2 separate regions of the Homo sapiens genome follow, and region 2 is linked to region 1. Evidence: fine-mapped QTL for protein levels in blood plasma. Region 1 holds a variant in brackets. A gene starts in the other region. All regions are shown on one strand. Distances are from middle to middle. Region 1 overlaps CEMIP (cell migration inducing hyaluronidase 1). Region 2 holds the start of ACAN (aggrecan).

What was found. PIP is the chance, under the fine-mapping model, that this variant and not a neighbour inherited with it causes the effect. The UK Biobank Pharma Proteomics Project read protein levels with antibody pairs (Olink). The fine-mapping took linkage between variants from a reference panel, not from the people measured, so its PIPs are less certain.
Region 2: it holds the start of ACAN, and the variant in region 1 is fine-mapped to the plasma level of the ACAN protein (UK Biobank, PIP above 0.99).

Annotation. Positions count from the first base shown.
Region 1 is chr15:80,943,789-80,952,117 of GRCh38, reverse strand. It overlaps CEMIP (cell migration inducing hyaluronidase 1), which reads right to left. Exons shown (of 30, transcript NM_001293298.2): 29 at 5,053-5,153; 30 at 347-3,321. The coding sequence ends at 3,194. It also overlaps a transcript of MESD not described here. Among named protein-coding and RNA genes, the nearest start is that of MESD, 42 kb to the left of the region's middle. The variant TTCA/A (reference allele first, on the strand shown) is at 3,210.
Region 2 is chr15:88,796,210-88,804,499 of GRCh38, reverse strand. It overlaps ACAN (aggrecan), which reads right to left and starts at 1,064. Exons shown (of 19, transcript NM_001369268.1): 1 at 691-1,064. It overlaps LOC105370960 (a long non-coding RNA gene), which reads left to right and starts at 982. Exons shown (of 3, transcript XR_001751648.1): 1 at 982-1,050; 2 at 5,696-5,844; 3 at 6,596-8,038.

The DNA of each region.
Region 1 (8,329 bases):
CCATCGGGGAGGGGAGTTGAAGTGACAGCCTCCTGACAGCTTAGAAATGTGGAGGACGCAGCAAGTTCTGGACATGGCCAGCCATATGAATGATATCTTCTCTTTCTTTGAACCATCTCCACCTGCTCTTATGGACACCCCGCCTTGGGGCAAGGCAAGGTAGGATCTTGACATATGACTAGCTCTTGGGAATAAGGCCATGGAAGTAAGGCAGACACATGGGGTGATTTCATCAGCCTTATTATCCTTAGATAACTGTTTATCTTAGGTTATCCTTAGATAAGTTATTATCCCTAGATAAAATGAAGCCCATTTTAATAGAAAATGAAACAAACAGACAAGATGATGACATCCTTTGTATGTTTACTATAATAACAGCAAAATTTTTCCAAACCAGAGCCAATTTCCTTGGCTCTAGGTACACCCCTTCCAAGCAATGCAAAGGACATCTCCAATCATGACATTTAAGACAATTCTTTATTTCTCTGACAGTGACTTCTTGAAGTGCACATATAATAAATAAATAGAAAATATATCTTTGTTCATGGTGATGCCTACAAGAAATGTTTACATACAAACACTCTATACATCTAACTCCCGAAAAAGGACCAGCTATTTCGGCAACAGAAAAAAGACAAGCATTTCAGAGGAGCGTTGCTTTCCTTAAAGACCTAACTCACTTAAGTCTTACAAACAGAAATAACAAGGAGGACAATTTTCTAAGCAATAAGAAAATTTGTGCTACCAAGAAAATGCCTAGATATTGGCTCTTGGTGAATGGTTTAGGAAAGAAACTTTTATGTACAGATCCTGTACTGTGAAACATATGTACAACTCTGAGAACTTTCAAATAGATATCTTTTTTAAATGAACTGAGCCAAAGACATTCAACATTCCTGGCCACCTGAAAGTGATCACATCCTAAGTGGTTCACAGTGTGAGACCCTTGCATTAGAAGAGTGAAAACTCAACAAAACCGTGGACAAGAAGGACATGAGGTCATTTTAACTCTCCTCTCCATCACCACTAATCTCCCTGGAAGAAGTCCTTCCTGTGACTCTGGCCTTTGAAGCAGCCATATCTTTAAAAGCAGAGCCCTATGGTCACCTCCCAGCAGCTGAAAGATGTTTGGTGGGAAAGACCTCCCTGACAGTTGGCTCCCACCTGGGGAATGGACTCTTGGACCGAGTCTCATGGGTGCAGTTGGGTGGAGGGAGCCAGGCAGGCCCTCTTTGAAGGAAAGAGTTTGTGGTTGGGGCAGGAAAGGGGATAAATGTAGTTCATCACAAGACCCAGGGAGACTCTGGTGCCTCGTGCAAGATTATAAACCACAGATAGAGTTCTCCCTCTTACAGGAGCTCTTTGGGCTCTCTATAAGGTGGGCCAGGGAGAGAGCAGGGCATTAAGCAGCAGCTGAAAGGGACTGGGGTGGACCCAATAGCTGTTCAGACACCCAAGATCAGCCAAATTGGCTCACCAGAAACATGGCGAGCCCTACTCCCTCTGCTGGGCCTCACCTGTAGAGCTGCAGAGACAGGAGAGCCAGGTAGCACCAATGGGGAGTTGCAGCTACTGTGCACCCAGGCTGGGCTGACAGGTAGTGAACAAAGTGAAGGCCACAGGGACCGCCAACACCAAGGGGAGGGCGGGTTTGTGTGCGCTGGGAGCAGGAGGGAAGAGATCTGCTAGCTGTCATTCTACTCTAGTCATTTCCTTTCCTTCGAGGGGACTTGTCCCCATTTCCAGAAGCTACCTCAGGAGTGCCTGGGCACTCTGGGGCCGGTTGTTGAGGCAATGTGGTGTGGCAGCAAGGGCTAGGGTGGGGCTCCCCAGGCCCTCCCTTAGCTGTGTGGTTCTTTCCCATCTTGGGGGCTCACTTTCCCCATCTGTTAAAATGAAGGCTTTGGGCTAGATATTTTCTATATTTCCAGCTCTGAAATCCCAGGCCGAGGGAGTACGAGCACATCTAGGGTCTCCTGGAGGCCCCCTGTGCTCAGTTCCCTGGATGAAGAGCAAATGAGGCCCTAAGGCAGGAGCTCACTTCTGTGGACTTCACCCTCTTGGAGTCAGAGGCAGGGCTGCCTGGGGACTGAATTCCTCTGTGCTCATAAGCAGCAAAGCCCATTGCTCCCCTCTGACCACACTTCTCCATCATGAGTGGGCCAGAGAGACGTGAGCAAAGGGCGACCCCGTAGTCACCAGCTTCAGCAGGCAGCGGCAGGGAGGGCTGAATCCCTGAGCCATTCCAGAGGCTGCCTCATCTCCCCCCAGCAAAATGCCCCCAGCCTTCATTCCTGTAAGCAAGAAGCCTTCCTGAGCCTCCCCTCTGAAATGGCACTGGCCTCCATTTTACCTCTCTGTGATTTCTCCACCTGGCATTGCAGTGCACATGGACCTGACTGCCTGCCCTACTGGACTGCAGACCCCTCAAGCTAGGCATTAGTTCTCACCTCTCCATCCCGTGTGCGCTGGGGCACCCAGCATCATGGATATCAGTGGATATCCATGAACTGTTGGGTTCCAGGTACCATGTGAAATGCAGCAGATTTCTGGAATCTCAGAACTAAAAGGGCCTTTGAGAGTCATCTAGTCCAAGTCCAAACCTGCCACTCAAAGTCTCCTGAAAGGTGGACACGGCCAGAGGCAGGGCTTGCCTCTTCCCCAAGGATAGCCAGTTCTACCCCAGCTCCTAATCCTGTGAGGTTGGCTCTTGCTTACAGGAGTAAAGATTTCCTTAAGGCCAAGGCTCTTTCTCCTACATTTACCACCCTCACTTGTCTGCTGAAGACCATGGGGATCTGTGAATGACCAGCCCTCCAGACTACCTCCTAGCTGGGTCAGGGCTCCTGCCAAAGTGGATCTTTGCTGTCAGCACAACCCAGGTCTCCTGATATGGTCCCCAAACCCCCACTGAAGAGGCACAGATAGGAGAGAAGCACCCAAGAGGCTGCAGGAAAGTGAATGTTTCCAGCATTGGCCAGCACCGCCCCAGGGGCTCCAGGTAGACACTTGAGTAGGGGCAGGTGGCAGCACCAGGGTCTCTGATAGCCTTCCCTTGGCCCATCAGGGCTGAAACACGGCCTTCCCAGGCAGCTGCTGGCAGGGGCTGGGGGACCCAGCCATCCCCCACTGGTCTGCTGCCAAGAGTCACCGTCATAGTCTACCACGAGGTGGCACCGGGCGGCAGCTGTCCTCACAACTTCTTCTTC[TTCA/A]CCACAGGGATGGGCACAACTTGGAAGATTTTGGCTTTGTGATCCTCAGTGTCCAGTGTCACCCAGATGGGCCGGAAGCTGCCTTTGAAGCCAACGAATGCCATTTGCTCTGAAAAGCAATGATGAGTCTCCTGAGCAAAAGCCCTATGAGAGGACGGCTGCCCCACCCCGTTCCATGGCTCCCCATCGCCAGCCCCCCACGCCCACCAGGTACCGCCTAGCCACACTGCACTGTGGCCCCTTGGGAAGAGCTCTGTGCTCAGCTACTGATGGTGCCTGACATGTGTTTGTATGGGGCAGGCAGGGTCTCACCTGAGCCTCACTGCCACCTAGGCAGGGTGATGGCTTTGTTGTAGACAGGGGAGCCATGCACAGCAGGAAATGGGGCAAACTGTAAGGGAGGAGACCTCCTAGGAACCTGCCTACCTTTGAGCTGCCCCTAGGACAACCAGCAAGTCCCTGCCCCTCTCTGAAGCCCAGTGTTCCCATCCATCAAATGATGGCATTGATCTACAAGATCTCCTTCCCCACTCTATCACTCTGTGGCTCTAGAAAGAGTTCTGAGAGGTGAAGAAATTTGACCAAGAGTGTGGAGTAAATGGTGCACCCCAGATTAGAACTCTAAACCCCTGAAACCCACACAGCACTCTCCATCTTGCAGTTCACAGCTTGAGCATCCGAGGGGCATGGGAATCCACGTCTATACTCAGCCCATCTTGGCAGGCAACATGCATTTATCACCACCGGGAAAGTGCCATTCAACTTAGGTCACCTTACATACATCAGCTTTTGGCAACCGGGATCTTAATTTAAAAGACAGAGGCTCCAAAATGATTTCAGGACTGGGCTGGAAAGGATACTTCTCTTTTCCTTATGTCCTCCTTTGGCTGGTTTGAAGGGTTTGCATTGCTTCTGATTTTTCTCATTGCCCCATATGATGGGTTTCTGATTTTGATGTTTTCCATAGTGAGGATGGTGTATAACTAAGAAGCCCAGCTTTGAGTTAGGAAGATTAGGATCCAAGTCCTAACCTTAAGCAAGTGGCTTGGCTGTTAAATTCTTGGTGTCCTCATCTTAAATGGAAATAATAGTACCTGCTGCACAGGTTATTAATGAGTAAGTGAGATAATTATAACATGTTGTGCAAAGTGCAAGGCTGAACATTGAATAGCAACCACAATGATCATTATCATTATTGCCCGTGGAGCTTCTCTGCCGCCCATACAGCCTCTCTGAGGACTCTCCCTGCACCTAGTTTTTGTGATGATAATGGGTGTCATGCTGACATGTCCCTCCTGGATGGCTTCTTCCAGCACAGCCAGCAAGCCTGTGCTAGGCTTCACCACCGAAGCTGCCTGGCCTTGGACAAGCCATGTAGGTTCTCTGGGCTTTAGTTTTCTGGAACAAATAAGAGTTTTGCAAGCTGCAAAGGACTGTACAAACGCTAGGCATCAGCTAGAATGTTGAAGAAGATGCAGGACCCCTGGCCAGTCTGAATAGCAGGAATTGGGTAGGAGGGTGAGACTAAGCCACTTTTCTTATGATACTTTTGTTGAATAAAGGGCCACTTTCCAAGCAAATGAGTCAACAAATATAGCAATTTTCTTTCAGTGGCTGGTGGCAAGTTATAATAAATTTGCTGCAGTGCAGGGGTGGTAAACAGGTGGCATCTTGCCCATCCATTCCAGTAGACCACTAGTTGTGTGGGGGATTCTTAGGTTGTACCCACGTTTAGTACAAAGCATGTTCTCAACTCAGCAAAAGATGACAGCACCCTCCATGCCAGGCATTTGCCTTCTCTGGTTTTGGGGTCAGTTTAAACCCCAGTTCAAACCCTTACCTTTCAACTTGAGACCCCTGTCTGCCCCAAGCTTTTCCAGCACTCTGGTCCATGGGCCTCTGGAGACGTATCTTCCCTTTGATGCCATAAGCACTATGGAACTGTGTGAGAAGAAACCAATTAGACCAGAGGGAGAGAGCAAACTGGAGAAAGTGGGCATGGGGAGGGATGTTGGTTTGTGCATGGTGGGACTGGAGTTAGCAGTGCCCAGAGGCCTGTCCAGGGATTCGGGAAAGGGCAGCCTCTCCTGTGTTCTGAGCTGACGGGCTCTTTCCATGTGGTGACGAACATCCTGAGCTCCCTCCCACACATCTGGCCACAGTTGGTGCCCACAGCCTTCTCCAAGCCTGGACTTGGCTCACCGCGTTTACATGTCTCTCTCCAAACAGAGGAGAGGATGTAAGCAGAGCGTACCATGCCAGGGCTCGGCACACAGTAGGACTTCGATATGTATCTCTTCCCTTGAATGTTCTCAACCCTGGTTAGGTAAGACCAGATAGAAATGTGGTGATGGAGGAAGGAAGGAGAAAGGGAAGAGAAAGAGAGGAGGTGCGGGAAGGCGGAGGGGAGCATCTGTCAAATCATAAAACCATCCAGGAGCTCCTGAAGGTTCTAGATCCTGAAGGTTCTAGAGACCAGCTCCATTTGGCATCCCCTGGGATTTCATTAGAACCACAGAATTCCTCCATTGCAGACTTCCTGAATCAGAATCTGCATTTTTACAAGATCTGCAGGTGATCATGTATACATTAAAGCTCGAGAAGCCCCATGCTAGAAGATTTCTCTTGGAGCGCATCTTTCTTTTGCTGTCTTCTTTTGATGGACACAGGCTTAGTGTAGTCCAGAGCCAGCCTTCTCTGAGCTGCAGGAAGAGCATGGCCAGGTTTGAAGTCTTTCTGGGAGAACACCATGTCGTTACCATGATGCTCGGGTTGTACCAAGAGCTCAGATTGACCTCTTACGTTCACGTCACCTCTCTCTGGTTAGGCAACACAGGGCTATTGCCTCTATTTTGCAAATGGGGAGATTGAAGCAAATAGTTACCAAGTATCTCAGAGGACCTACCAAAGGGAAATGTGCTTGAAAGACACAGAGGTTTGGAGCAATGTGTGCACCCAGCCTGAAGGTCCCAAATTGCAAAAGTTCGACTTGGGAATAAGGAGTGTCTATCCCCTGCCTCGGGGTGTATTCAGTCCAAAGTGCTGGGAAAATAGCCTTCACAGTGGCAGACTCAGCACACTGGGCCAGATAGGAGGAAGTGAGCACCTCCCTTGGGAATAGAAATGGGGCAGAAGCTCAATGGGGCGTCCAGTTTGTATCTCAAAGGAACTCTGTAACCACAGACCACAGTCCAGACATGGAAAAACTGTATAGGATTCTGGAACCTGTTGTTACCCCCATTTGTGTCCCACTGGGAACAGCGGGAAAGATCTTAAGATGCGAAGGGCTTGTGTGAAATAAGGATAGATGGGAAGGGAGCTGGGGCTGCCTCAGGCCCTTGAGGAAGGCTGGAGAGGGAGGCCCAAAGGGTTGGTAGGGTGAGGCCCCTTAAGGAGACAGGTCTCATTGCTAACACATCCTCCACTCTAGATTCAGGATCTGTTCTCAGGAGGATATTTCTGCATTGTTTCATTTCAGAACAAAAGCTAATGGTCCTTTGTTGGAGCTCAGCCTTCCTACTTGGGGGACTCAAATGTAGGTCTTGCCCTCCTGATGGGGATCTAAGTTAGCTCACAGGAGCGGGACAGAGAGATGGGCTTCTTGTGTCCCCACCCCTTCCCACTGATGCCCAGAAGCCTGCCTACCTATGTTGGGAACACTTCTTTGCCTGGTGTGCCATCCTCATGGCCTATAAGCCCATGCCCCAGCCAGCACAGTCTCCCACAGAGTGGCAGTGCAGAGGCAGCTCCCAGAAGCCATGCTAGATGTTTCTGGTGTGAGCAGCTGCCCTCTTCTCTCCCCAGGACCCTGGGGCCAGTAGTGGCCTGCTGGATGGGGTAGGAAGCATGGGCCAGGCTAGGCAGGGCCCGCAGCCACAGTAGAACAGGATCTACCTTGCCTCATTCCCTGCTGCTTTCCAGGAGGTTAGAGAGGGGTCTAGTGGTACCAATGCCTGCCTGGGTGCCCAGCGCCAGCCCAGGGAGTGGCCCATTCCAGTAAGGGCTTCCCCCAGAGAGGTGCTGCTGCTCGGGCTGGTGGGAGCCTTGCACATGGTTCCAAACAGAGTAGCACTGCAGTCTAGTTTCTTATTCCAAGCTTCTGCATCATCTTTCATTTCAAAAGAAAATTCTCTGCCCAAAACGTCATGATCTCTAGAGGATAACTATTTTTCCCAATTTGGTCAACCTTGTCCTCTGTCTGAATCTGCATATGAAAAATAGAATGCCGAAGAAGCATCTGATGGGGGAATGAGGGAGGGAGTAAATGTGGTTAAGCAAAATCCCATTATCCAAAATCTCGCCAGGTGCCCAGTTCACGTCGTGCCCCTCATGGAGTCAGCATCTGGGAAGTACATTTGCTTTCATTTAATAACTATTAATGTTTACTAAGCACCTACTATGTAGCAGGTACCACATGAAGCGCTTAGACTTTCCACCAGGTTGTGGCTCCTGAGTGAACTGTACACTCACTTAACTAGCCATGTTCTGTGCTAGAAATGCAAAGGGAAGTTAGACATGGCCCCAACATTGAGAAGGCCACACTCTTGATGGGGCAACAGATGTGTCCACCAGACCTATTGTGAGTAGTGCTTTAGCAGAGGTAGAACTTTTATTTTTTATTTTTTTGAGACGGAGTCTTGCTGTGTCACCCAGGCTGGAGTGCAGCTGCGCAATCTCGGCTCACTGCAACGTCCGCCTCCTGGGTTCAAGCGATTCTCCTGCCTCAGCCTCCTGAGTAGCTGGGACTACAGGTGTGCACCACCACACCCAGCTAATTTTTTTGTACTTTTAGTAGAGATGGGGTTTCACCATATTGGCCAGGCTGATGTCAAACTCCTGACCTCATGATCCACCCACCTCGGCCTCCCAAAGTGCTGAAATTACAGGTGTGAGCCAATGCGCCCTGCCAAGGTAGAACTTTTGGGTTGGATCGGAAAAGACCTCACCGAGGAGGCGATGTGGGGAGACTTGTAAGGTACTGGGGAATTACCAAAGTTTGCTAAGGAGAGGGGACACAGGTTTTCCCTACATTTAAGAAGTTTAAACCAGCGGCCAATATGGAAGATGGGTTGGAGTTGGGGCAACTGGAAGAGGGAGGCCCGTTAGGAGACTGTGCC
Region 2 (8,290 bases), 7.9 Mb before region 1:
CTTCTTGGTTGGACACCCGTGTGTTCAGGGCACTGCTCTCCTCTCCCCTGCTGGCAGTTCAGTAGCTCTGTCCCAGGTTCTGCCACTCTCCCCTGGGCAGACTCTTCAGGCACTCTGGTCCCTGGAGTAAGCCAAGTGGCCAAGGATGGACTATCTAGCCTCGGCTTAGGACCCGCTGTGTCCCTGACATAGTGTCCATATGATTTCATTTATTCTTCCAGACCCCGCGAAGGCCTTTTCCCTCTCAGCTGACAGACGGCAGGCCAAGGCTCAGGAAGGTGAAGCACACCTTCCAGCTCAAAAGTAGCACCTCGGGGATTTGAACCCACATTCCCTTGACTCTGAAGCTGCTACTCTGTCAACCATGGGTCTTTCCAGACCCTAGGATTTAAAATCACCTAGGTGTTTGGAGAAAAGGCTCCCTTGTTCCTTCATCCTGGCGGACTAGGAGACAAGTGCCCCTCCTCACGTGTTCCTTTGCCCCATTCACTGAGTCTGCAACAGCCAAAAAGTTTGCTCAACTCCACCGCGGACGCAGCCGGTGGATGTGCTGCGCCCCCGGCACACATAGCTCTAGGGCGGAGACCAAGGCAGTGCAGCCCCCAGCCCCGGGGCGTGCAGTCTCAGTCCCGTTCCTGGCTCGCCGGGCGCCCTGGGAGAGCCTCGCTCTGGAGGGAAGGAGACAGTTACCTTGAAGAGTTGGACTCCCTTCTCCAAGAACTTCAGTCCCACACACCTGGCGAGGCAGCTGGGGGCTCCTGGGGCCGGGAGGCCCGGGTCTCGCTGCGTAGCGAGGGAGACGCTCTGCGCGGGCGCTGCGCACCCCTCCTCCTGCCGGCGTCCTGTCCGCAGGTCCCCTCGGGCTGTGGCCGCAGCGGCAACTGCTGGGTTGCGGAGTCCTGGCTGGCTGAGGGAATGGACACTGAAAGGTGCCCGGAGACCCTGGCACCCGCGTCAGACGCCGGCCGGCGAGGGTGCTGAGAGAGAGAGACCTTGAGCAGCGCTGCGCGCGTCCTCAGCTCTGCGAGCCCCCTCTGGAGCGGCGGGGAGGTAGGTGGGCGGGCGGGCGGGCATGGCGCGCTGTGACACATACATAGGGACGGGCGGGGGAGGGGAGGGCCCGTGAGGGGTGGGGGCGGGAGGGGGCGAGCGCAAAGGGAAACCCCACCCCCAGGGACCGAGGGGCGGCCGACAGGGGGAGGGGAAGGCAGAGGCGTCTGGAGCGCGCTGGACCCTGGCTCCGGACCGGCGCGCCGATGGGGAAGCCGGCCTGCGCTCAGGGCGGGAGAGGAGCGCTCCCCGGGGCGGCGCGGACCCGGCAGCTCCGGGGCTGGCGGGAGGAAGGCGGCGCGAGAAGGGCTGGAGGGCCCGCATCTGCATTGCGGTCGGCAGCTCCGCAGTCGGAGGGGCCCAGGAGGGCTGCACCCTCAGAGAATCCCCAAGTGCCCGGACTCTGAGGCCGCCGCGGCGGGACAGGGCTCCCGGGCGCCCGGCGGGGTTCTGCAGCTGAGGCTGGCCACGACGCGATCTAAGGAGGGTGCAGCCCGCTACTGTCGGCCACGATTTGGAACGACCCTCACCGAGGAGCTGGCTGAAAGTTTTTTTGGGGGTGGCGTACACCGGGATGGCAGGGGATGGTGGAGAGGGGGAGGTAAGGCGTCAGCGGGGAGGCTCACGGGGAGCTGCGAGTCTCTGGGTCTTCAAATTCCCCGGGAGAGACCAAGGACATCTCATATGAAGCAGGAATTCTCCAGTGTCTCTACAGTACTCTTTAATACCGTTTTCAGGAAAAGGAGAAAAAGAACTAGCAGCTTTTGAATCCCTCCTATGAGCCCGTTGTGTAACATACATTAACATTTCATTTAATTTTTCCAAAGAGCCCAACAAGGTAAATATGGCAACTTCCCACCTGCCCCTAACCAAAGATGTGAAAACTGAGGCTCAGAAAGTGGTGGAGATCCCTCTTGAAGGTGGGACTGAGTTCGAGTCCCAGGTCTTGTGCTCTCTGCTACACAGGCTGCTGGTTGAGCCACAGCACCTTCGGAGGACTCAAGCTGGCTGGTGACCTTCAGAGTTCTTGTGGAGGAAGCTGGTGGTGCTTCACACCAGGATGTGGTGGCCACAGTCAGGATGGTGGTGGAAGCTTCCTGACCCTCTCATTGGGCAAGAAGAGGAAGAAGTGGAATCTTTCGGGACTCCCCACTACAGAGATAATAGACCACACTTTAATCAGTTCCTTGATGAAAAGGAACTGAAGTGCCTCGGTTTCCCCAGGGCGACTCCACTGGAATTATGTGGTTATTTTACTGGCCATCTCTGCCTGGGGGCGGGACTGGCCCTGGCCCAGCACATGCTCTGTGAGCCGCCTGTCTCTCCCCTGTCCAGGGCAGTGAAGCCCCGTCGGAGGGAGCATAGTGCCCACTCTATCCACCCACCTCTCAGAGCAATGGCTAAAGTGTTCCAGTGGTTGGCCATTCTTGATTTCACCCTTTTTCTACCTGAGCGTATTGAGTCAGGTCTGTAAGTCTTGAAGCATTTAGGACACAGACAAAATGCTGGTGACCGAAGCCCCTTAGGGGGTGATAGTGGCTTCTCTCACAGATAAAGAAATGAGATGAGGCCGGGCGCAGTGGCTCACGCCTGTAATCCCAGCACTTTGGGAGGCCGAGGCGGGCGGATCACGAGGTCAGGAGATGGAGACCATCCTGGCTAACACGGTGAAACCCCATCTCTACTAAAAATACAAAAAAATTAGCCGGGCGTGGCGGCGGGCGCCTGTAGTCCCAGCTACTCAGGAGGCTGAGGCAGGAGAATGGCGTGAACCCGGGAGGCGGAGCTTGCAGTGAGCTGAGACGGCGCCACTGCACTCCAGGCTGGGCGACAGAGCAAGACTCCGTCTCAAAAAAAAAAAAAGAGATGAAATCTTAATAGTTACTGGCCTCAATGCCTGGAACAGGGAGAAATGACCCTCTGGGAAAAAAACAGTCCCTGAAATTCCAACGAGGTCATGGATTCTCATGCCTGTGTTTACCTGATGCCTTGTGGGAGAACAAATTGCTCTCATTTGTAAAATGGGTTCATGTCAACATTCATCCTAGGGCAGGTGGGGTTAATGAAGAACAAGTCAAGGGCAAATATTAATTAGGCGATTTATCTTTGTATTGAAGGGAACAAATGTTTATTGATCATCTGGTTTTGTAATGAGTCTAAGAAACATATATTGGGCACCTATTATGTGTCAGATGCTGCTTGGTACAGCAGCCTCTCAGATGGATGCCATTCCCATTTACACACTAAGAAACCAAGACTCAGAGGCCATCAAGGTAGTGAATGGGATTGGAGTACAGGCTGGTATGAATTCACACTCCCTAGCCCTAAAGGATACAAAAAACCCAGGATAATGGCAACGCATTTGGACACTTTAAAGACAGTATTCAGAGAGTCAAAGGACATGCGTGTCAGAAGGCCCTTGGTGGCATACACAGGCTCTTCCTGTCCAACTCAGGAGCTCTGTTCCAGTGTAATATTTCTGAAGCTGGTCATCTCCTCTTCTGCTAGAATACTTTACAGTTGCCTAATGCCTTTTCCAGGCTGCCCGATGCAGTCTGCTGTAAACTGGCAATTTCTAACCTCTTGCTGCTCAGAGTATGTTCTATAGACTGGCAGTGTCACCTGGAAGCTTATTCAAAATGCAGAATGCCAGGTTCCCCAGACCTACTGACTCACAATCTGCATTTTAACAAGATCCCTCCCGTGTTGTATATGCCTGCTGAAGTTTGAGAAGCACTGTGCTGACATCATTCAGCAGGTTCTACTCATTCAATCACAAATCACAGAATAAGAGAATCTCAGAGCTGGGAAGAGCTCTTGGAGAACTTTAAGGACACCCCTCCATAGAGTATGTCAGTCCTGTCCATGATGTTTCCCTCAAGTAGGACATCAGACTCTGCTTGGATGTGGCCATGAGTTTGACTCCCTTCTGAGGCCACATCCATTTTTTTCACGTGGTTCTTGTATTTAGGCAGCTTTCAGCTTTCACAGAAGCTCATGCCCAATACTGTGGATTCAGCAGTGAACAAGACAGGCCCATTTCCATCCCCCCAACCCTAACCTGTCCCAGGACCTCCTGCCACGTGATAAACCTTTCTGTTTGGAATCAGTGATCTCAAGTCTCTCCCTTCTCCCTTTTGGATTGGGTCCAGAGGAGAGCTCACCTCAATAACCTGGGTCCTGTGCTTCTGGTAATGCAGCCAACATTTATGTGCTTTTATGACAGCCTCATCATGACTCATTTGGAGCCTGCAGCCAGCTCAGACTTCCTTTTCACAGTGCTTCTGCCACCTAGCATCTCCTTTGGCTTATCCTGGTACAATGGGTTTTTCCAATCCAAGTGTGGGGCTTCATTTTTGCTTCTTTTAAACATTACACTAACTAATTCAGTTTACTACTTCAGATCATCTTGGATTCTGACTCTATTATTCTGTGTGTTTGCCATTCCTCTTAGCAGCAGACATTCTACAAAGCTAACTAGTGTGCCACTTCTATGTTTTCATTCAGGCTGCTCATAAAAATATTGCCTGGGACGGAGATTAGGGCTGAGTTCTAGAGCAGAGCACTAGAGACAGCCCCCCTGGAATGAACGACATAATCCGATATTCCAGTTATAATGGCTGTGTAACAAATCACCTCAAAACTGAGTGTCTTAAAACAATAGTTATTTAATATCTCTCATGGTTTCTATGGATCGGGAATTTGGGAGAAACTTCGCCAGGCAGTTCTGGCCTGGACTAGCTCTTGAAGTTGTAGTCAGATGTCAGTTACAGCTGCAGTTAGCTGAAAGCTTGACTGGGGCTTGAGGATCCATGTCCAAGGTGGGTCGCTCACGTGATTGGTGAATTGGTGCTGGCTGCTGGCCAGTGACCTCATTTCATCTCCATAGGGCCTCCCGATGGAGCTGCTTGAGTGTCCTCATGACATGGCAGCTGGCTTCCACCACAGTGAGTGACACAGGGAGTGCAGTGCTTCTGTGTCATAGCTTTGGAAGTCCCACACAGGGCCAGCCCTGAACTAGTGTGGGAGGGTCATACAGGATGTGAATACCAGGGGATGGGGATCACTGGGGGCATCTTGGAGGCTGGCTTCTACACTCCATTAAACTAACTCATAGAGCATGGCCAGTCCCCCCATCCATCTGACTGTATTACCATGGAGTGCTTATTTCTGTCCCATACATGGGGACACCATGAAGGTACCTTGCTAAGTCCCAATATAAGGTGCTTGCAGAATTCCTCTGAAGCATTCATTCCAAACTCTTTTACAAGTGAGTGGCCCAATTCTGCTCTCTAGAGCAACACAGTCTGCCCCCATTTCAACAGGGGCAGCCTCCAGTTAGTGCAGGAGGGTTCTCACATCACCCTTCATGTCTCTCCTCACAGGGTCTTTGACTGTTTCCCAAGGGAGTGTTCTTCTGGAGTTTGCTTCTGGATTCCTCACTCTCTGCGAACCTTGTTTGTGGATGCCCCTCAAAAATGCAATGCCCGGCATTAGATGCACAAGCCCAGGTGTGGACTGATTAGAGGGGAGCCAGGACAACTCTTTTCTCTAACCATTTGGATATTCTGCTCCTACCGGTATGGCCAAACATCGTTGAGTTTCAGAACTACATCTCACTGTTGCTTGATATTTAATCTTGCAGGCAATTAAAATGAAGACTGTTTCCATGCGGGCCCCCGTGAAAGGGATTCCTGTGTATCTCAAGCAACAAAGAGAGCTGTGGAGCAAGGAGATTCCCTGTGTAATCGGGAGCACTGGATGTGAATCCCAGGTCTGGCATGGGAACCTTGGGTGAGTTTCTTAACCTCTCTGGATTTTGGTTTCACATCTGTAAAATGGAGCTATCTTATGGAATTGTTGTGAGAATTAAAATAAGATATGGAATGTCAGCCCCTAGTAACTGATCTGGCTCAAAGTGCAAGGATGGTTAATTTTCTTCCTTCCCCCTAGCCCCCACAATTTGGTGTGCCTGAGTAAGTACATTCTCTCCTGTGTGCTGTTTTCTGTGTTTGTAAAAGAAGCTAAAAATACCCACCTCATAGGAGTGTGGCAACAATGAATACTATATGTAATATGTGTAGAGAACGTTGTGATCCTTTTTGGAAGCAAAGGGCCATAGAAACATGATATAGAAAAGCCTTCTTATAGCAGAACTGGGCCAGGGAGTGGAGTCTAGTGAGAACTAGTGGAACACTTGAAAAGTGCTGTTTTATTACTTTAACACTGTACTAGTGGCAAAGTAGGAGGGAAATGTTATAATAAAGAACATGGAGACAGTTAATGAAACACTCACAAGCCTCCACGGGTCTGTGTGGAATAATGACATACAGTAACGGGAAAGTGCTGTGTCACCAAAGACATAGAAATTGAAGGGCACGTTTAAGGAAACTCTCTTAAAGCTTCAGTTTCAATTTTTTTTTTCTGAATTCATAGCAGATTCTTATTTTTAGTAAAACCCTACCATTTATAAAAGAGGAAATTATGGCAAGCATTTTATTCATTACTCACTAGTGTTTTTTTTTTTATCATTGAGAATACTCAGTGAGTGATGCTGAGTGGAATGTTACGTATCACCATCATCATCAGCATCCATCCCACCACCATCATCACAACCACCACCACCACCATCATCATCATCATCATCATCAACAGCTTTTTCCAAGCAAGTCTGGAATAAGAAGAGAAGTCGGAGGATTTAGGCTTTGTACTTCCTGGCAGCCCCAGCCCCTGAGGCTCATGCGATCCTGCTCACCTTCTCTCCCTGACCCCGAACCCTAAGGGGCTCCCGCACTCCAGATCGTAGCTGGCTCTTCTCTATTCTTTTCCTTATTCCAGCCATTAGAGTCTTTTGGGACTGGCTTCTCAACCTTTGTCACATTGGGCTTGATATTTTTAGTTTCTTTCAGTGGTAAATATTAGATTATTCAGAAAAATTGTTGTCCCAGATTTCCACACATGATGGTATAGATACAGAATATACACTTATAAAATAAGCAGAAATGATATCTCATGAACATTTGCTAGAATTGAAATAGAAGAGGTGCAGGCAGCATCCCCATAGCTTAAAAATGATCTGCTAAGATGTGGGCATGACTTTTCCCCACAAAACTTGCCACTCATTTGATATTATAGTGCGGGGGAATAGTCTTCCTGACATTTTAGTGGTTGTTATTGCTGTATTTTTTTTTTAGGGCATATTTTTTTAAGGGGAGAAAATGAAGAATATGTAAGGAAAAAAATCAGTACTTAGCTGGGTTACCTTTTATTCTTAGGACATTTACTTGTTAGCATTACAGTCTTAAAATAGTCTTCTACCAAATACATTACCAACAGGCATTTCCAAAATGCTGAGAGTACTCTATCTAGTCTCAAATTCTCAAGTTCAAAAAAATGGAATGCCAGTTCCTCCATGGGCTGACACAGCCTCATTATTATGGCCATATTTATTTACTTATTTATTGTAGTAAAATATACATAATATAAAATTCATCATTTAAACCATTTTAAGCATACAGTTCAGTGCCTTTAAGTACATTCACATTGTTATATAATCATCACTACTATCCATCTTCAAAACTTTTTTTATCTTCTGCAATGAAAACTATGTACCCATTTAATAATAATTCCTAATTACCCCTACCCTCTGCCCGTAGCCACCACCATTCTACTTTGTGTCTCTATGAATTTAACTACTGTCAGTACCTTATGTAAGTGGATTAGCGCCAAATTTGTCTTTTTGCGATTGGCTTAGTCACTTAGCATCATGTCTTCCAGGTTCAGTCATATTGCGGCATATGTCAGGATTTTCTTCCCTTTAGGGTAACACTTATTGAGCTCTTACTGCCTACCAGGCCTTGTGCTATGCGCTTCAACAGACCTCACAATCACCCTATGAGGTAGGGAGTCTCACTAACTCCATTTCACAGATGAAGAAACTGAAGACAGGAATGTTTAGAAAGCTGCCTGATATGGTTTAGCTCTGTGTCCCCACCCAAAACTCATGTTGAATTGTAATTCCCAGTGTTGGGGGAGGGACCTGGTGGAAGGTGATTGGATCGTGGGGGTGGATTTCCCCCTGGCTGTTCTCGTGATAGTGAGTGAGTTCTCACAAGATCTGATGGTTTAAAAGCGTGTAGCACCTCCCCCTGCACGCTCTCTCCTGATCTGCAATGGTCAGCTGTGCTTGCTTCCCCTTCGCCTTCCACTATGACTGTAAGTTTCCTGAGGCCTTCCCAGT